Linked DNA regions of Homo sapiens: all the other regions are linked to region 4. The links come from fine-mapping of genetic effects on gene expression. A gene starts in region 4. Each other region holds a variant in brackets. All regions are shown on one strand. Distances are between the middles of the regions. Region 1 overlaps CLRN1-AS1 (CLRN1 antisense RNA 1). Region 2 overlaps MED12L (mediator complex subunit 12L). Region 3 overlaps CLRN1-AS1 (CLRN1 antisense RNA 1). Region 4 holds the start of P2RY14 (purinergic receptor P2Y14). Region 5 overlaps MED12L (mediator complex subunit 12L).

Region 1 (4,152 bases), 300 kb after region 4:
ACAGTTATGGTAGAAGATATTTGAAATATTAATTCATGTGTGTTCTCCCTTCTCTACATGTCTGATTCCTTTATATCTCCCCTGGGGGTTGGAGGCAGAAAGAGTCAGATCTAAGCAGGACACACATTGCTGCCTGCCAATTTGCTAAAGGTCACTGTAGTCTAGGAAAGTAAAAAGGAGGAAGGCACCCAGTAGTCAGAAGGGAGAGTATTGGGAAACTAAGCTGGAGCTAGAGTGGAAGTCAAGTGCCAGATGATTTTACCCAGTTGTGCTGCTATCCAGTCCTTCTCGTGGCCAGCTAGTGAGGCCCGCCACCAGACAGCAGCCTTGACCAACAGCATCCCAGCTTGTCTGTGCTCCAGGACCCAGTTCAGCCCTCCCTACTCCTTCTGCTTCTCTCCATGAAGTCAATCCCAGGAAGTTCAGCAGCCCGGTACTCTTATGGTTCCTCCAGGATAAGAGGGTGGGGCCCTGAACACCTTTAGTGACAGTATAAAAGGGCAATATTCATCCCTGATGAAGGAAGGACCAGACAAGGCCAGCTTGATTGAAAGCTCCCACTAAGCTAGGGCAGTGTTGGCCACAGAGACCTTGTGACTCCGGACGGTTGATACCAATATATATATGTACCTCACATAGGGTCTGAGTAGCTACCACCTGTCCCTTCACTAGGCAGCCATCACAGTTTGTTTCACCTAGTGCCCTGGACCAAGAGCCAGATGGTGGGGAGAGCTGAAAATCAGTGCCTCCCAGAAGCTTTTTTTAGAATGCACACAAAGAGGAAAAAGACAAAACAAGTAAAAGACAAAGAGAACTTTGAAAACAGAGAACTGCACTTGACTGCCGGGAAGGAGAATGGTGACAGCTGGAGAAAAACTGAACAATAAATTTGGGCACTATAGGGCAGTTCAAGGCTTTATTGGTGGGGAAAAAAAATTGCTTCCTTCTCAATTTTTGCAGACTGGCTTCCAGTGATTTGACTTGCGTCTCTTAATATTACTTTTACATTTTCAGGAGACACAATCTGGTTGATTTAGATGTCTAATCCTAATCAAAGTAGGCTAGAGAGGGTGGGTCACATTGTTCAAATGTGGCTGTCACAGAGTTTATATCTGTGGTGCGTGCCTGTAGTCCCAGCTACTTGAGAGGCTGAGGCAGGAGAATCACTTAAGCCCAGGAGTTCAAGACTAGCCTGAAAATATAGTGAGACCCTGTCTTAAAACAAACAAACAAAAAAAAGTTGGTAATCACCAAATCAAACTACCCCAAAATGTACTATTTTAGCACATCTATCCTAAGTTATATCAATGAGGACAATTATTATCTGTTTCCCTGTGCTAGGAATGTGGTTTGCCTATTATCGTTAAAGGATGTGTCTTAAACTATGCCTTCTTTCTTCACCTCTTCAGGTTAGGTAACTTTTTCCTCCTTTCTGTAGGAGCTCAGACATTCTGCTGGGTGAAGCTTAAGTATCAACATAGCCTTAATGTGAGATACCAACAAGAAACCCAGACAAATCCGAAGGTGTCACACTGGATCTTTTTTTTTTTTTTTTGAGACGGAGTCTTGCTCTGTCGCCCAGGCTGGAGTGCAGTGGCGCGATCTCGGCTCACTCTAAGCTCTGCCTCCCGGGTTCACGCCATTCTCCTGCCTCAGCCTCCCGAGTAGCTGGGACTACAGGCGTCCGCCACCACGCCCGGCTAATTTTTTTTGTATTTTTAGTAGAGACGGGGTTTCACCATGTTAGCCAGGATGGTCTCGATCTCCTGACCTCGTGATCCACCCTCCTCGGCCTCCCAAAGTGCTAGGATTACAGGCGTGAGCCACTGCGCCCGGCCACGAGATCTTATTTAACAGACAGCATGGGCAGCAACTTTACTCCACTCCCTGGTTCCTCTCTGTGGCTTTTGTGTCAGAAGCACAATTCTTTCACTTATTCTAAATGTCTCCACAACCATCATCAGCCCCAAAAATCCCTGTACTGAATTCTCTCCTCTCAGTCCAAATCCACTGCGGGTTCATCTGTATTCCAAGAGAACTTTGTTTTCTTTTTCTTCCTTTCCCTCAATCCTTTTAATCCTCTAGTTCAAGCAATTAGCTCTACAAATATTAGCTGCAATCAAGGTCTAGCACATGTGGTAATTTTCTCTCTAATAAATCAATCAATTCTTTCCATGGAGTGTTTTTTTCCTTTACAGTCATTAGAAAATTACAATGCTACTTGAGGATCACCAGCAACTTGAATTAGTCAAGGCACGTCAATCAAATTT[G/A]CCAGATTTTGCTTTAAAGATGAGAAAAATGGGGTAGATTTACAAAGGCCTCTTGTCTTAGAATAGGAAGCTTGATAGACCCTTGTTGAATCTCTCTTAGAGAGGCCTTGGAGTATAATGATCCATTTGGAGGAAAATCAAAATCAGTACTACCAGTGACAAATCAGACAAAACATAGAACCTCTCATTAAATAATCTAAAAATTAATAATTGGAATAATCAGCCATGCAGTGTCCCTGGGCAATGCAATATTCCGTAATAGCTAACAGGTTAGCACAGCAAAGAAAAAAGAGACATAATCTAGCAAATGGCCAAACTGTAGTTCTATGGCTTATTAAATTTTTTTTTCTTTAGTTAAATGGGAACTAAAGGAGCCAAACTGTGCTTCTCGAAGCTGTCTTTCACGTTGGGGATAGGACACTGTAGGGAGTAGGGAGCTGGGGAGCCCAGTGACAACTCCTTGATCACCCACCCTCCCAGTATAGCAGCTCGATTTTTGTCTTATTTCACACAAGTTGTGTTGAGGCAATGGTTTTTCTTCTTAAAAATGATTTGAGAATCACCTATGCAGCCCAGACCACTCTTTTCATAAATATGTAAAATTAATGCCAGAGAAGGAATTCTTAATTTAGCCATACAGCTGGAAATAGACCCTGGACAGGATCTTCCCATGCCATGCTATACTGTCTCTTATACTTGGCGAACAAACCAGGTGAGAATTTGCATCCCTTTGTAATGGGGCTGCTTTTTTTCTTTTGTTTTCAAATGGTTATAAGGAAAAACTGATGCAGCCAAGTTAGTGTGAGAAGAGGCACAAATGCTACACTGGAAGTGAAAACAGAGTCTGCAATTGTGCTCCTTTCTCTACAGAATCTCTAGTCACTCTGAAGAATTATATCATTATCCAGCACCTGAAAGGGGTCAGAGGAGGGGGAGGCCTAGTTCCATTTTCTTATGTCACCGAATGTATTCCTATTAAGATTGAGAGAAGTAAAGATTTCAGCAGGATACTTGGTGAAAACTTGCTGACATTAATGACTCAAATTCTCAGAGAGACTGCAAGGAAAATGGTGTCATCACTGTCATTCAAGACATTTAAGATGAAATTTCAAAAGAAGGCTGTCAGGCATAATGACTGCCAGGTTCCATTATATCATTCTCAGAGGGTGGATCACACACACTACTACGCAGCCTGTGGGTGGCTGATGCTGAAGTTTGAAAGGAAGCTGCATGGAGAAGAGGTGAGGGGGGCTGCCTCACATGAACAGGATACAGCACCATTGATATTCATATGGTGATTTGGGGGTAAATCTATGAATCGGGGCCTGGTCTTTTGTTGTGGATATGCTGAAACCTAGTGCTGAAAAAATGTAGGAAAGTTTGAGCTGTAAATGGTAGTGCCTATTTATTAATTTGCTATGAGCATATTCCTCTCTAGCGACCCAGATGCTCATGTCTGTGTGCATTCCAGCACTGAGATGCCTGCAAAGCCTAGTTTGTAATCAGTAGATAGCCATGTGAAAAGGAGATAAGGGCAGTGGCTTCCAACCTTGGCTGCACAATGCAATCACCTGGGGTGATTCGACGCTAAGGCCATACTCTAAAATCAAATAAATCTGAATCTCAGGGATGAGGACACAGACATCAGTACTTTTAAAATCTTCTCAAGTGATTCTAATGAGCAGCAAAACTGAGAACCACCGTGTCAAAGCAAAGGGTGAGGTTTTAGGCCTCAAAGGGTGAGTCTCACCCTTTCCACTCAGGGATCTTTTATGTCATAGAGCAGTGGGTTTGATTTGGTTTTGTTTTAAATCAGGAGTAGACATAGGTTTGCCAGTTTCTAAATTTGTCAAATAAAATCATTAAAAATTCAACTACCATT
Region 2 (4,152 bases), 41 kb after region 4:
TTCATAAAATGTGGTGTCCTTTTTTGATATTTATAGACAGTCCAGTATAATACATATATTTAATAGCTTAAGAGCTGGAGTGCTAAAACAAGCAAACTAACAACCATAACAAAATCTCTTATCAGAAAATATAGATAAATGTATTTTAGCCAAGAATTCTCAAATTTTTGGTCTCAGGATCCCTTTTACTCTTAAAAAATTACTGAGGACCTCAAAGAGCTTTTGTGTATACCTATCCATACTTATTATTTTAGAAATTAAAATTGTGACAGTTATAAAACTTTTAAATAGCAGGTTAACACAAGTAACATTTTTATGAAAAATATTTTCAAAAAAATTTATGTCAACAAGTCATGTTATTCTACATTTTTGCAAATCTCTTTAACATCTGGCCTAGAGAAGACAGTTGGATTCTCATATCCACTTCCATGTCCAATCTCTTGCAAAATGTTTAGGTTAAAAGTATGTTGAAGAAAATCCAATCCCATACAGATAAATAATGGCCTTCTGGATTTTCTTCTTTGACAGCACAAAACTCAACAGGTGGTTTTTTAAAGCATGATTGCAATATTGGATCTAAAACCATGTCAATGAATATTTTATACTTTGTAACACTGAAATCTTTTGGTCTTGACCTTTAAGTCTATGTGTTTTACTTATGCCCAATTTTATAACATCATACATTGGTCATGTAGATAAAATACATTCATGCAGAAATTTGTAAATATAAACACTTTTCATTCTACAGTACCAAAAAATCATACTAATTAATATTGCCCCTCCTCACAGTGTCAATACCGGAAAGCTACGAAACTCACAACAGCAGACAGAAGCTTTCCAAAATTCTGCTTTCAGTTTGAAAGCTTGAATTTTATCATTGTCAAAAATTGTCTCTCAGTTCATTCAGTTTTGAGAAAATGTTTGCCAAACACCCAAGTACAATTATTAGTTTGTCATTCGATCAAGTAAAAATGGTGTTCCATGAAAAATGCATCTAATTCAGCTTATAACTCAATTATACAAGTGTTCATTCCTCTAGACAATCATAAGTAGCAAATGTACTTTATACATAATTAATATTTTGGCACACAAAATATTAAAAAGATATTTTTATGGTTGAGATTTAATAAAAACTAGTATTGCTTTATTAAGCAATTGGTAAAACTGATTTTTCTTTTCTTGTTTAAGATTGTATGTCAGTAAGGTATAAAATGCAATGAACAGTTGAGTGCACTGCCTTGATTTGTGCTAAGACACCTGAACATTTTACACATCATGGCTTTTGCACCATCAGTGCAAATTTCAGCACGATGAAAATAGCAACATCTTAGTACTCTTATAAAGATGGATTTGATTTCATAGTGTCTCTGAAAGGGTGTCAGGAACCCCTGTGGTTCTGCAGACCACATTTTAAAAACCACTGTTCCAGGCTGGGCGCGGTGGCTCACGCCTGTAATCCCAGCACTTTGGGAGGCTGAGGCGGGTGGATCACCTGAGGTCAGGAGTTCGAGACCAGCCTGACCAACAAGGTGAAACCCCGTCTCTACTAAAAATGCAAAAATTAGCCGGCCAAGGTGGCAGGTGCCTGTAGTCCCAGCTACTTGGGAGGCTGGGACAGGAGAATTGCTTGAACCTGGGAGGCGGAGGATGCAGTGAGCCAAGATAGTGCCACTGCACTCCAGCCTGGGTGACAGAGCGAGACTCCATCTCAAGAAAAAAGAAAAAGAAAAAGAAAAAAGAAAAAATG[T/C]GCACTGTTCTAAACTTTAGGACAGAAAAGTTTTAAGATACAAAAAGCACTAGTTAGAAAAGAAAAAAACGATAATTTGATCCTTAAAATTGGTAAATTTTGCTTCTTGAAATATAACTTTAAAAGTGAAAACAGTAAGTCACAATCTAGAAAGCCTATTTATAGTAGAGACACCAAACAAAATATCAACAATATTCAAAGAAGTCTACAAATCAGTAACAGCATAAACAACCCAACAGAAAAATAAGCAAAAAATGTGACTAGACATTTCATAGAAATACCAGTGATCATATGAAGAGATGCCCATATCATTTGAGATCACTGTACAAATGAAGACTACAATATAATAACATTTCATAAGAAAAAAATTTTTAATCTGAAAAGATAAAACGTCAGAGAGGACTGATATCCACAGGATCACTACACATCATTGGTAGGAATATAAACTAGTGTAACTTCTTTGGAAAACAGTTTGGCGGCTGGGCGCAGTGGCTCACACCTGTAATCCCAGCACTTTGGGAGGCCGAGGCGGGCAGATCACCTGAGGTCAGGAGTTCGAGACCAGCCTGGCCAACATGGTGAAACCCCATCTCCACTAAAAATACAAAAAATTAGCCAGGCATGGTGGCGGGCACCTGTAGTCCCAGCTACTTGGGAGGCGGAGGCAGGAGAATCGCTTGAACCCAGGAGGTGGAGGTTGCAGTGAGCCAAGATCGTGCCACCACACTCCAGCTTGGGCGACAAGAGTAAGACTCTGTCTCAAAAAAAAAAAAAAAAGAAAAAAAAAAAAAGCCAGGCGTGGTGGCTCACGCCTGTAATCCCAGCACTTTGGGAGGCTGAGGCAGGTGGATCACAAGGTCAGGTGTTCAAGACCAGCCTGGCCAACACAGTGAAACCCCGTCTCTACTAAAAATACAAAAAATTAGCTGGGCGTGGTGGCATGCACCTGTAGTCCCAGCTACTATGGAGGCTGAGGCAGAATCGCTTGAACCTGGGAAACGGAGGTTGCAGTTAGCCGAGACTGGTACTCCAGCCTGGGCAACAGAGCGAGATTCCGTCTCAAAAAAAAAAAAAAAAAAAAAGTTTGGCATCACTTCCTGAAGTTTAACATTCATGCTGTCCTTGACTCAGCAATTTAACTCCTAGGTTTATATCCACGAGAAATTTTCAAATGTCCATCAATAGGCAACAAAGATATGCATCTCGGCATGACTCACAATGGCAAAAACCTGGAAATACCCCAAATACAAGAAACTGAATTAACTATGATATGGTCACACAGCAGAATGCTATACAGTAACCAAAACAAAATTAATTATAGCAATACTTAATAACATGGATGTGTACGATATATATGAAATCAAATTTTATATATTTATGTCAGTAAAATATATAGAAAAATCATGAAGAGATTACATACAGTTTTAAAATCATAACTTCATTCACACACACTTTTAGGAATACATATAGATGTTACAAAAATTTGTAAAACAGGAAAAGTGAAAGATTGAAGAACACATGACTCAGGTAATGTGGAATAAAAGTATCCAGAGAGATGGCATGGGGGTGGGAGGATGGACCATTTAGACAAGAGCAGCTGCTTACTGTCAAGGTCTTGGCTTTCGTTTTGGTTACTGAGTCTGAAGGAGATTATTAACATCGTTAAGAATAACAAAATAAATCTGTAAAAAGTCATCCTTGCTTGAATGCTGCATAACAAGAATGCTTCCTGAATCAAGAATTATGATTATTCTAATTCTGTGATCCAGAGATTTAAAAGGATATCTATATATGTTAATCTACTATGCACATTGAAGTGGCAATTCAAAATATAAAAGTACATTTTAAAACTCTAGAAGTGCTGAACAAACTCATCATTTGACAGTTAAGGAAATCCTTAATTTGACCAAAGTTGTATAAGTAAGTTCATTCTGAAATTCCATAAATATTCATTGAGCTTCTAACTGTAGAGCAAGCTCTATTCTGGGACCTCCTAATTTTGCCGTTAACAAGAGAAATAAATTCTGGTCTGGCAAAGCTTACCTTTAAGAAGGGCTGTATGTAAGAATAGGGGGAGAGGAGAATAAGTTAAAAAATATTAGATTGGTGCAAAAGTAATTGCAGTTTTTGCCATTGAAAGTCATCACAAAAACCACAATTACTTTTGCACCAACCTAATATTTTAAACAACAAAGGGAGACAAGAGAAAACAAACGTGGTAAGAGGCTAGAGAATGCGACATAGGGGGAATGGCTATGTTAGATGCCATGAACAGGAAAGGCCTTGCTGAGAAGGTGACATTTTAACAGAGACCAGCATGTGGCAGCCACACAAAGGTACCAGAGACTGACAATCACAGGCAGAAGCCAGCTCCAAGGACCTCTGCCCAAGTGAGTTGCTTTTAC
Region 3 (4,152 bases), 290 kb after region 4:
GTTAGTCAGAGGAGTGTTCCTGAGTGCCTGGGCTGAGGCACAGCTGTGAAAACGGGGAACAGGGATGCATTTGAGAGATATTTAGGAAGAAAACCCACAGAGTTCAATTACTGATCAGGCATGAGGAGTGAAGGAAAAAGAAATGGTGTGCCTACTTCCCTGGTTTCTGAGCTGGGAGACCAGGTGGCTGGTAAAGGCTGCTGCCTTTTTTCTGCAATTAATACATTTAGGTTATAAACAGTTCAATAATACAGAAGCAGATGAAATAATAAGCGAAAGTTCCCTTCTGGTTTTTCTCCTTCACATTCAACGCCATTCCCCAAGGCATAGCCACTATTAATATTTTGGCATATTCCTCCAAGTGTCTTTCCATGCCTATACTGAACTCAATTAGTTTCTCAAACTCAAAGAGTAATTCTACTGCAAAGACATCCGGCCAAATCTTTGAAATTCCTAAAGAAGATGTTTGCACTTGACCATGTGTATCACAATGTTGGGCAAAGCCTTGGGCAAGAGGATAGTTTCAGCAATGAGGCTTCTTCCAGGAACCACACCTCTGAGAGTTCATTGTGGGCTACATCATAGATTCAGCCCTGTTCAGTACAGTTATTTGTAGGACCAAAAAAATGCTACATGGTGCCCAAGTGTAACACACCAGTAATTAAATTGATAAATCTTCTTTATTACCAATTCTTCTATAATATAGGTACATTCATGCCCCCAAGATAATCATAAAATATATTTTCTTTGGTATTCAATGCCCTGGAAATGCCAACAGAATTGTGTCTGTATGTACATCAGCTTTTAGTTGGAAAATTAGCTATGGAAAATTTACTCTCTCCTCTGACCTGGAAAATATTACTCCTACAAATTAAAGATAAGGCAAATGTCATAAGGATGTGAGGAGATAACTTTGATGAGATAAGAAACTGCAGTTGAATGAGATCCTACATGCATACTCACAATACATTAAAGCCGCTCAAATTTTCAAAGAAAAAATGTCTGCCTTTTTTCTGGAGCTAAAATTAATCATATTGCATACACTAAATTGTGAGTATTCCTACAGGGAATTCATTGGTTGGAAGTTACTACCAAGGACTAAAATGGAATAAAATAGCCCCACTTAAGAACTATAAATCTTTCTAAAGTTAAGTATTTCAGAGAGAACCTGTGTGAAAAGATATATTAGAATGGTAACTAAGCATACTAGGATATTGAGCAAGAAATTGTCAAAAATTTAAGTCTTATGTTTAATGTTTTAAAATTTGGTATAAAAATAGGAACCAATATGTAGCAAGTGTTAATTCTTGGTCCAGCAGTTTTCTTAAAACATCCTTGATATTTTAACTGTTTCTGGTGAGGCATCTCCCCAGTTCAGAAAGTAATTATAATTTAAATAAAAATTATTATAATAAAGAATAGCTAACATTTATTAAGCATTTATTATATGCTAAGCACTATTTCAAGGTATTTATATTATTCCATTTCATCCTCACAGCACATTATTATCACTCATTTTAAACATATGACTACTCCTGACTTTTAGAATTATTGGAGACTAAAGATCTGCTTATTTAGGGTGTTGTTTGGAGGTGACAAAAGATTCAGTGGTTTCAAAAACTTTTGTGCAAGGAGGGCATTCTGGGAAGATGACAAAGTAGGAAGCAACAGGAATTTGTCTGCCCACCTAGAAACAATTTCACTGGCAAAATCTGTCGGATGTAGCTATT[G/T]AGGAACTCTGGAGTCTGTTGAAAATTTGCAATGTCTAGGGAAGGCTTAGTAAATTGTGGTTAACTGTGGTCAATTTCAGCTCTTACTGCAGTAGCAGCTATCCTTCCTTCACCCCCAGCCCCATGGTATGCAGGTATGTACTTGTTCCCGAAGCAGCTTTTACACAGTTTGTGGGAGCCAGGGGACCCTGACCTCCAAATGCTGGGGATTTGTGCATTTGTGCTCTGCTCACTGATTGCAGCTTCTTCTTCTGTTTTTTGTTTGTTTTGTTTTGTTTTGAATAACCTGTGTGTGGATTTTTTTTTTTTTTTTAAACCAGGTCTTGCTCCATCACCCAGGCTGGAGCACAGTTGTGCGATCATAACTCACTGCAGCCTGGAACCTCTGGGCTCAGGAAATTCTCCCACTTCAGCCTCCCAAGTAGCTAGGACTACAAGCATGTACCAACACACCCAGCTAATTTTTAAAATTCTTTTAGAGACAAGGTCTCACTATGTTGCCTAGGCTGGTCTTGAACTACTGGCCCCAACGGATCCTCCCATCTCAGCTTCCCAAAGTACTCAGATTACAGGCATGAGCCACTGTGCCCAGCCATCACTGATTGCAGCTTCTGATCACAGAGGCGCAGACAAACACATAGTTGGCCATTGTTGCTGCATCTCTCCCACTGTGGCAAGCCCCTCCCTGTCCAGCTGAAGTGACTTCCAAAGGAGTAAATGGCTGGCACCACTCTCCACATCCTTAGTTTTCTCTTTTTTCCCTTTTGGGAGGCAGACATTGAAGACTAGGACATTCAAAAGCAACTGCATATACATTAGCAATTAGAACAAATGTTCATGCCCAGAGAAAGACAGGCTCAGAAAAGACCTGAGAAGACCTTAATTTTACACCTCAGGCTTATCCTTGGCGCAGAAACAACCTACCTAAAACAATTTTTAAAAAAATAAAAAAAAATGAAAATAGTATAACCTGGGAAAGGGAAAGAATATGATTTCCAGAGTTACTGCATTATTAGATTTAAATGTCTGGTTTTTGATAAAAAAAATTATAAGGCATACACAAAGAAACAGGAAAATATAGTCCATTCAAAGGAAGAAATAAATAAACAAAACAGCCCCTGAAAAAGATCTGATGGTCTCTGGGCACAGTGCCTCATGCCTGTAATCCCAGCACTTTGGGAGGTCGAGGCAGGCAGATCACTTGAGGCCAGGAGTTCGAGACCAGCCTGGTCAACATGGTGAAACCCCATCTCTACTAAAAATACAAAACTTAGCCAGGTGTGCTGGTGCACACCTCTAGTCCCAGCTACTTGGGAGGCTGAAACACGAGAATCCCTTGAACCCAGGAGGTGGAGGTTGCAGTGAGCTGAGATCATGCCACTGTACTCCAGCCTGGGTGACAGAGTGAGACTCTGTCTCTAAATAAATAAATAAATAAATAAATAAATAAATAATTCTGATGGTAGATCTAGTTGACAAAAACCCTTAAAATTATTGTCTTAAAGATGCCCAAATAATTAAAGGGAGATATGGAGAAAGTCAAGAAGACAATATTTGAACAAAGTGGAAATAGCCATAAAGAAACAGAAAACCTACAAAGAAACCAATAAGAAATTCTGGAGCTGAAATGTACAATAAGTGAAATAAAAATTCACTAGAAGGATTCAAAGGCAGATTTGAGCAGGTTAAAGAAAGAGTCTATGAACCTGAACATAGAACAATGGAAATGATCATGTCTGAGAAACAGAAAGAAAAAAGATTAACAAAAAGTGAGCAGAGCCTAAGGGGCCTGTTGAACACCACCAATATACATACTGTGAGAAAAGGAGAAGAGGGTAGAGGAAACAGTTAAAGAAATAATGGTGGAAACTTTACAAATATGATGAAGAATATAAACATAAATGCCAAGGAGTTCAAATAACTCCAAGTAAAATAAACTCAAAGAGACTCACACAGAGACAGATTATATATAATCAAACTTTCAAAAGACAAAGAGGGACTCATGAAAGCAGAAAGAGAGAAATAATTCATCATATGCAAGAAATCTTCAATAAGATTATCAGCAGATTTCTCATCAGAAGCTTTGGAGGCTAAAAGGCTGATATATCCAAAGTTCGAAAAGAAAAGAAAAAAAACTGTCAACCAAGATTCCTATATCTGGCAAAACTGTCCTTCAAAGTGAAGGAGAAATTAAGATATTCCCAGATAAAACAAAAGATGAGGGAGTTTGTCATCACTAGCCCTGCCCTGTAAGACATGTTCAAGGGAGTAAGGCACGGTAAAATAAAAGGACACTAGACAGTAACTCACAATCTTATAAATAAATAAGAATCTCAATAAAGGTACACACGCATGCAATTATAAAAGTCAATATTATCATAACAACAGTTTGTAATACTACCTTTTGTTTTCTATATGGTTT
Region 4 (4,130 bases):
TGTGATTTAAGCATATCCACAAAATGTACAGCACAACCTAAAGACTACTTCAAAGTCCAGTCCTGCTACTTTCTAGCTTAGACAACTGTTAAATTTTCTGAGGCTCTATTTTCTTACTTGTGAAAAAAAGGAATAGTTACTTCTCCAAGGGTTGCCAGGTGTTTTGGCTGTGAAAAGATCTAGTAGGCACAGAGTACGCTTCAATCGAGTGTACGAGTATGTGCATTTGAGACGATCCAATCTTTCCAGATGAGCTTTCCTTTCAAGTGCCTAGCTGTCTGCCCCCTACCCACCCCTCACCATCCTTGTACTGCTACGTGCCAATAAAACCACAGAACAGAGGTCACAAGCTGACTGCTCACAAGCCCAATACAGTGCACACTCAGGTTTTGTTTTAGCCCACAGGGTATCAGGTCTACACTGGTTTGTAAGGTATTCGATTTAGACACCAACAAATGAAATCAGAGGAGACATATAAAGGCAGTAGCAGTGCACAGGCTCCAGGATCTGCCCAGCTCCAGCAACCTGATGTAACATCTCCATGCCTCAGTTTCCTTGTCTATTAAGAAAAAGGTGGGGAAGAAGTAGTAGACAGACCTACTTTACTCATGGAGCCATTGTGAGTAATCAAGCTAAAACACACAGAGTGTTTAGAACAGTACATGCAAATCAGCGTTTAATGTTCTGAAGACACTGGCCCATCCCAAGATGAGGCCCATGACTCTGGCAAGCTTCCAGACACAACTGTCCCCCTGGGTGGGCCCTTTAGCTTTCCATTTCTCCATACTCCCTCTACTCCCAAGTGTCTTACACAGAGTCCAACCCATTTGTACCACCTGCCACGAGGGGACCACCTGTAGGGCTATCCTTTTGGCCTTGGACTTTGCAACTCCTGGCATTAAGAGGCAAGCAAGCAGCTCCAGTCAAAGAAATTATCATGTTCTCCCCAGTCATACTCAATAACATCTATGTGAAACACCCCACGGGGAAGTCAAGAAGCAACAAATTATCATGTTCTCCCCAGTCATACTCAATAACATCTATGTGAAACACCCCACGGGGAAGTCAAGAAGCACAAAAGGGACCCGGAACAATTAATGGGTGTTTTTGAGACTGTCAGAGTAAACAGCATCTCCTGCAATAAATCAGGGAAGTCTTGAGAGTCGCACCTTAGAGATACGGTTCCTGCCAAATCATCAATTTAATCAGCAAAATGTTTACATCTGGAGGACTCTGCAATGTGCCCTGGTAATAACCAGGCTCTAGCGGCTCCTCCTCACATCCACTTGTCCTTAAGTTTATTTACCTACCAGATCTCACTGCAGCTGAAGCTAACAAGCCTCTCTATGCACATCAGTATTCTTAGCCCCTCAATCAAAGCATCAGTGAGGACTATTGGGGCCCGCTGGGGGTCTGAAGAAGAGTCCCTCTGGCAGGGAGAAATGGCGAACTTCTCTAAACAAGCTCTGTGTCTCACAGGTCTTTGCCAAGGATCAACAGTGACTAGCAAGTCTGTGAGACAGAAAGTAAGAAAATACTCTTCATGAGGGAAATAACTGTTTGGGTATGTGTCAGTCACTACTCCATCTCCAATGTCCAGAACACTGCCTCCTACGTAGCAAGTACATATAAAGCAACTAGAATAGTAACGGGCATGTCATAAGCCAGTTATAATTATTATAACTAAATGTATAGCTATGTTTTTAAGGCAAGCTGAACTTTACTAGTTGTTACCCATAATTTGGCAATGGAACAGCCTAAGTAAATACACTTAAAATGCAGGAACCTTATAAAGTAAGCTTTTCAGCCCCTTGTCTTCTTTCTTTCTGGTTCTGAGTTATACACTTTGAAGAGGACTTTGTAGCCATCTTCTGAAAACTTCCAAATCTAATGGCACTAATAGTCAATGGGAAAGACAGTGGAGCACTGCAGGACATCACCAATTATATTACAGAGCCTGAAAGGAACTAAAAATATGAAGACTTTCAAAATAGTAACACAGCACAAACACCAAAATGTTAACACACGAGGAGTTTATCTGAAGTCCTACTTGTGATCTATTTATCAGTAATGTTCAAATATGGGAAAATTAATGTGGGAAAAATGACAATGCAACACCTCTTATCTAGAATATGTCGACATTGGTGTCAAAATACTTCTTTATTCTGTTAATTCCGCATTTCCAGGTAGCTCCAACTACCCATCTCTGCACGTTATACTGTGAAGCTGCTGACAATTTTCTGAGGGTGCTTCAGAAAGAACCATATCTTACACATCAGTTCTCCACCTCATACCACATGTTGAATTTGACAATGGCAAAGGTTAGAAAAGAAAACAGGTTTTTGCCTGGCTGTGCATCAGATGATGTAGGGATGTGGGGAAAAGTAGGAGGAGAAATAAGAAAGCAGGACTGTTTTTGCATTACTGGAGGAAAGGAACTAGCTCAGAAGTCAGCCTAACACCCACAGAGATTAAAACGTCTCTTCCTTCCTCTTTGTTTCCACGTCCCAGTCTTCAATAAATTCTATCTGACAACAGCAGCAGAGGGACCCACTATCTTGTGGTTTCTGTCAAGTTCCTGATTTTCATCCGTAGTTGAAGATGAGCAAGAACTCTGTAACAGTGTTACCTTGGAGCCTACAATGAGAGGTATTTCAAAATGAGTGAAGCATGACTCTCACAGATGAAGGCCTAGACGCAGGTAAGAAAACAGCTTTTCCATGAAATGACTTGCATGTATGTGAATGGTGCATGGGAACAGAAAAGATTTCTGAGCTGGGCAGCAACAAAGCTGAGGAACACTGAACCATTGCCACTCACATTTTTCTCAGTAGGTTACTTTTTGTTTGACAACTATAATTGGTATATTAATATATTTCCCCATGCTAATATGGGGATCCAATACTGAAATATTATCATTTATGATTTAGGATTTCCAATCGTGGCTGTCAAAATATATCTGTGATGAAGAGATATCAAGGAAAATGTTTAAAAGGTATTCATCCAGGACAAACATTTCAAAAGCTCGTAAATGTGTATTAAAATTGCTTCTCAAAACTACAAAATCGATTAGCATAATACTTAGGTCAGTATGTCTTTGTTTGCAATTGCATATGTGTACAGATATATAGTTGCATTTACTTGTACATACACTTATATAGGTAAAAGTTTTTATCTTTGTCATTATTAGGATAAGTTAACCCCATTAACACCTACTAAAATAAAATGCCTTTAAATTGTAAATCACAGAAATATCTGTCCTAGGCATAGCAAATATTTGAGTTCATATGCTACTTATTTATAGTCTATGACTAATCAGCTAAATTACTTACAATTCTTTAAACATTATAAATTAAATTACATTCAGGAGAATTAGCACAGACCCACAATGTCAGCTTATTCAACCAAGCCCATGCAATCCATCTTGTCTACATATACTTTGTTAACCAAGGACAATCAATCCTACGGAGAAAATGAATCAAAGATCACACTAGTAAAAAAATAAATAGTTTGTATATTCATCTTTCTAAAACATACAAACTTGATAATCAGTTTTAGCACTAAAAAAAAACCTAGCCATTAAGTTAAAAAGAAAACAATGCACTCGGAAAATACCAAAATGGCATATTTTATGATTTGTAAACATGCAATGAATTTTATATTTCGGTAAAATTTATGAATACTATATATACAAACATGCATACAATTGTGTGCACACAATTAACACATTGGTATATATGAATGAACTCTATATTGTCATGTCTGGAAAAAAAAAAAACAAGGAGGCCAGGCATGGTGGCTCACACCTGTAATCCCAGCACTTTGTGAGGCCAAGGTGAGTGGCCTCAGGAGAGGCTGGTCAGGAGTTCAAGACCAGCCTGGCCAACGTGGTAAAACCCCTATCTCCACTAAAAATACAAAAATTAGCTGGGTGGTAGTGGTGCATGCCTGTAATCCCAGGTACTCAGGAGGCTGAGGCAGGAGAATCGCTTGAGTCTGGGAGCCAGAGGTTGTGGTGAGCTGAGATCGGGCCACTGCACTCCAGTCTGGGCGAGAGAGTGAGACCCTGTCTCAAAAACAAAAACAAACAAAAATAAAACCAAAAGAACAGTGGGGAGATTCCAAGGTAC
Region 5 (4,000 bases), 48 kb after region 4:
TTTACTAAGGATAATGGTTTCCAGCTCCATCCATATTCCCACAAGACATGATCTCATTCTTTTTTTATGGCTGCATAGTATTCCATGGCATATATGTGCCACATTTTCTTTATCCAATCTGTCACTGATGGACATTTAAGTTGATTCCATGTCTTTGCTATTATGAAATAGTGCTGAAATGAACATTCATGTGCATGTGTCTTAATGGTAGGATGATTTCTATTCCTCTGGGTTTATACCCAGTAATGGGATGGCTGGGTCAAATGGTAGTTCTGTTTTCACACCAATCAGAATGGCTATCGTTAAAAAGTCAAAAAATAACAGATGCTGGCAAGGTTGCAGAGAAAAGAGAACACTTCCACACATTGGTGGGAGGGTAAATGAGTTCAACCATTGTGGAAAGCAACACTGTGATTGCTCAAAGAGCTACAAACAATGTTTTAAGTAAAGACTACTTTGGCATAGAGGAGTATATAGAAAGAGAAAAGAAAATGGCCAAGAATAGAACAAGAAACATCAATTTTAAGGATGGGCAGAGGAGACCCCACAGGAAAGTAAGAAGGAAAGGTAAGAAAAATAGCAGAGACACCCAGGAGACTGTTATTAGGCATTCGTTACCTGTCAGGCACGGAGCACAGGACCCTTCCCTCAAAACCAACACACACACGTGTGTGTATACATGTATATGTGCATATAGGCATGCATATATCAGCAAAAAAAGCCCATGAATACACAAGTTTATACAAACATACAAACATAACACTTTGTTTTCTTGTACTGAAGTACTTTCAAAATAAGTTGCAGGTAATCATGACCCTTCCCTTCTAAATACTTCAATAAGCATCTCTAAATACTCTCTCGCTTAACCACACCATCAATATTTCTGGGAAGATTATTACTCAGTAATATTACCTAATCTAGAATCTGTATTCAGAGTTATACAACTGTCTCAAAACAATTTGTATGGCTATTCCCTCCAGCCAACAATCACCACTCATTAACGGTGTTATTTCTCTTTGGCCTGTTTTAATCTACGACTGTCCCCTTCCAGCCCATCATGTTTGTTTCTCGTGGCATTGATTTTTTTAAAGAGTCCAAGGCTGGTTGCTTTATCAAATGTTTCATATTCTAAATTTGTCTGATTGCTCATTGAAGATTTTTGATACAGTTTATTACAAAAGTATGTTGTGTACATCTAACTAAATCATATCAGGAGGCATACGATGCCAGATTATCTCACTTTTGGTAAGTTGGATCATTCAGTGACCACCAGATCTCTCTGCTTCAGAGGTATACTTTTTATTACTCTAAATGATGGGGGAGTATGTTTTCAGACTGAAAGATACTATTCTCCCACACCCATTCACCCAGTGGCTTTTGGCCACAATTGAAGCTTATTGCCTGAATCAGTTATCACACTGAGGTTGCAAAATGGTGATGTCCTAAATTCTACCCTTCTTCTACCTTTACTAGCCAGCATTCTCCTGTAAACAAGAGCTTTCTCATTTGCATCCTACCTTTTTGTAATCTGTACTTTTAATATCACCATAAACTCCTGAATTTGTTTTGGTTTTCAATGTATTTTCACCTGTTGCTATCATTCTCATTAATGCCCAAACTGTCCCAGATCTAGGAGTGCCCTCAAGTCGGCTTCTGTGTCCTTTTTTAGCATTTCCTAATCGGTCTGAGCACTTCCTTGCTTTCTGATCAAAAGATGTCACAACTCAACTTATACTTTTCCTGTACCTGATCGGAAATCAGTAATTTCTCTTAAGGAGCCCTGTTTCCTTTCAGTGGCTAGT[G/C]AGAGTTCCAAACAAGATGAGCTCACTGACAGTGGGAAGTCACTACTTCTGCATTGGCAGGGGGGTTTCACTTTTGTTATTTAAAAATGGCTTGAGCAAGTTTACAGCTATTGGGGTGTCATGACTTACAGACATACAGATTTTATTACTTTTTTTTATTAAGGACTTTGAGCAGGTTTAAAGTTTGAAGGGAAGTAGCCCTTAGAAAGAGACGTTGAAAATAGAAAAGAGAAAAGCAATAACACATAGAGTTCAAAGAAACATTAGAAGGAAGTGGAAGTGCATTCAAAAAAAAAAAAAAAGCGTGGAGTAAAACAAAACTAGTCCTGGCACGTTTCACAGTCCAAGGATGTCAATGAGCATCAAAGTGTAGTGTATAGTATAACGAGAAAGGAGTGTTTATCAGAATTTTTTTACATACAGGTATTATACCTGAGGCAATAATGAAATGGCATCTAACAGCTCCCCTGGGGCAGGGCAAGACATAAGACTATTTTCTTACACTGTACTTGACTGACTTCTATTGAAATTCATGGGAAAGGTGAAATATCACAAGTGGAATGTTCTAAAACAGACACGCATATTCAAGAACAGATCCCGGCCGGGTGCGGTGGCTCACGCCTGTAATCCCAGCACTTTAGGAGGCCGAGACTTGCGGATCACAAGGTCAGGAGATCAAGACAATCCTGGCTAACACGGTGAAATCCCGTCTCTACTAAAAATGCAAAAACAAAAATTAGCCAGGCGTGGTGGCGGGCACCTGTAGTCCCAGCTACTTGGGAGGCAGAGGCGGGAGAATGGCGTGAACCCAGCAGGCGAAGCTTGCAGTGAGCTGAGATCGCACCACTGCACTCCAGCCTGGGCAACAGAGCGAGACTCCATATCCAAAACAAAAACAAAAAACAAAAAAACAGATCCCAACATGTGAGCCTAGGACTCATAAAAAGTAAAGGTCTTTGATTTCAAATACAACTTGAACAACATCTTCAAGCTGCATAAAAGTGCATCTTTCACCCTTAAGTCCTACTAAGTTTGCAACTAATACAGTTGCTCCATTGTTGCATGCTCTAGTTAATAAAACACAAATTCGTTTAAGAATTGCTCAGTTCGCCTGGCGCAGTGGCTCATGCCTGTAATCCCAGCACTTTGGGAGGCCGAGGCAGGCGGATCACGAGGTCAGGAGATTGAGACCACGATGAAACCCCATCTCTACTAAAAATACAAAAATAAGCCAGGCATGGTGGTGGGCGCCTGTAGTCCCAGCTACTAGGGAGGCTGAGGCAGGAAAATGGCATGAACCCGGGAGGCGGATCTTGCAGTGAGCCAAGATCGTGCCACTGCACTCCAGCCTGGGCGACAAAGTGAGACTCCGTCTCAAAAAAAAAAAAAAAAAAAAAAATTAGCCGGGCATGGTGGCACGAGCCTGTAGTCCCAGCTACTCGGGAGGCTGACGCAGGAGAATCGCTTGAACCCGGGAGGCGAGGTTGCAGTGAGCGGAGATCACGAAACTGCCCTCCAGCCTGAGCAACAGAGCAAGACTCCATCTCAAAAAAAAAAAAAAAAAAAAGAATTGCTGAATTTATAAGTTATTACCACAGTATGTTTTATTAAAATCAAAGAACCCTCTAACAGGGATTAATACACAAAACAGGGAGGAAACATACAACACTTTGGGTTAGAGAGTATATGGGAATCACTTCTGTACAGTATTTCTACTCCCACTTAAAATTCTGGATATTTATATTCTTTTCCTTTGGCTATATAAGCCTGAATCTTGAACAAACACACAAGTGGTTGATATTCAGCTAAGCAGTTAAAGCTGTTGTTTTCTCACACATGGAAATTTGTCTTCATCTTCACAGCAAAGGATAACCACTAATGGTCTAACAGCCCCATGATCTGCAGATCTGAGTACTGCTTGCCTGAGAAATGCAAATACCATCTCAGTGAGGCGAAAAGAGGTCATGGATTCATTTCCTTGCCTGGCCCCAGGGAATAGGACCACATATTCCAAAACAATGCTGCAGAAGAACAGGCTGGAAAAAATTCAGTAATTCAGGCAGCTCAACCTAGTTCCAGGAGAAAAAAGAATTGGTTCCCAAAACCCTGAAGCCAGGAGTGATGCAGAGCTTTGTGCCACTCTCATGAAAGATTAGCATTGTGTAGGGACTGGTAAATTAGAACTGAAACACTCTGGA

What was found.
Region 1: its variant is fine-mapped to the expression of P2RY14 in whole blood (TOPMed, PIP above 0.99).
Region 2: its variant is fine-mapped to the expression of P2RY14 in esophagus mucosa (GTEx, PIP 0.97).
Region 3: its variant is fine-mapped to the expression of P2RY14 in whole blood (TOPMed, PIP above 0.99).
Region 5: its variant is fine-mapped to the expression of P2RY14 in whole blood (TOPMed, PIP 0.98).

Annotation. Positions count from the first base shown.
Region 1 is chr3:150,975,439-150,979,590 of GRCh38, reverse strand. The region is part of intron 1 of CLRN1-AS1 (CLRN1 antisense RNA 1); the gene reads right to left. Among named protein-coding and RNA genes, the nearest start is that of CLRN1, 4.8 kb to the right of the region's middle. The variant G/A (reference allele first, on the strand shown) is at 2,271.
Region 2 is chr3:151,235,723-151,239,874 of GRCh38, reverse strand. The region is part of intron 16 of MED12L (mediator complex subunit 12L); the gene reads right to left. All of the region lies in intron 1 of P2RY14 (purinergic receptor P2Y14), which reads left to right. Among named protein-coding and RNA genes, the nearest start is that of GPR171, 35 kb to the right of the region's middle. The variant T/C (reference allele first, on the strand shown) is at 1,748.
Region 3 is chr3:150,987,614-150,991,765 of GRCh38, reverse strand. The region is part of intron 1 of CLRN1-AS1 (CLRN1 antisense RNA 1); the gene reads right to left. Among named protein-coding and RNA genes, the nearest start is that of CLRN1, 17 kb to the right of the region's middle. The variant G/T (reference allele first, on the strand shown) is at 1,731.
Region 4 is chr3:151,276,858-151,280,987 of GRCh38, reverse strand. It overlaps P2RY14 (purinergic receptor P2Y14), which reads left to right and starts at 2,446. Exons shown (of 3, transcript NM_014879.4): 1 at 2,446-2,701. The region is part of intron 16 of MED12L (mediator complex subunit 12L); the gene reads right to left.
Region 5 is chr3:151,228,675-151,232,674 of GRCh38, reverse strand. The region is part of intron 16 of MED12L (mediator complex subunit 12L); the gene reads right to left. All of the region lies in intron 1 of P2RY14 (purinergic receptor P2Y14), which reads left to right. Among named protein-coding and RNA genes, the nearest start is that of GPR171, 27 kb to the right of the region's middle. The variant G/C (reference allele first, on the strand shown) is at 1,803.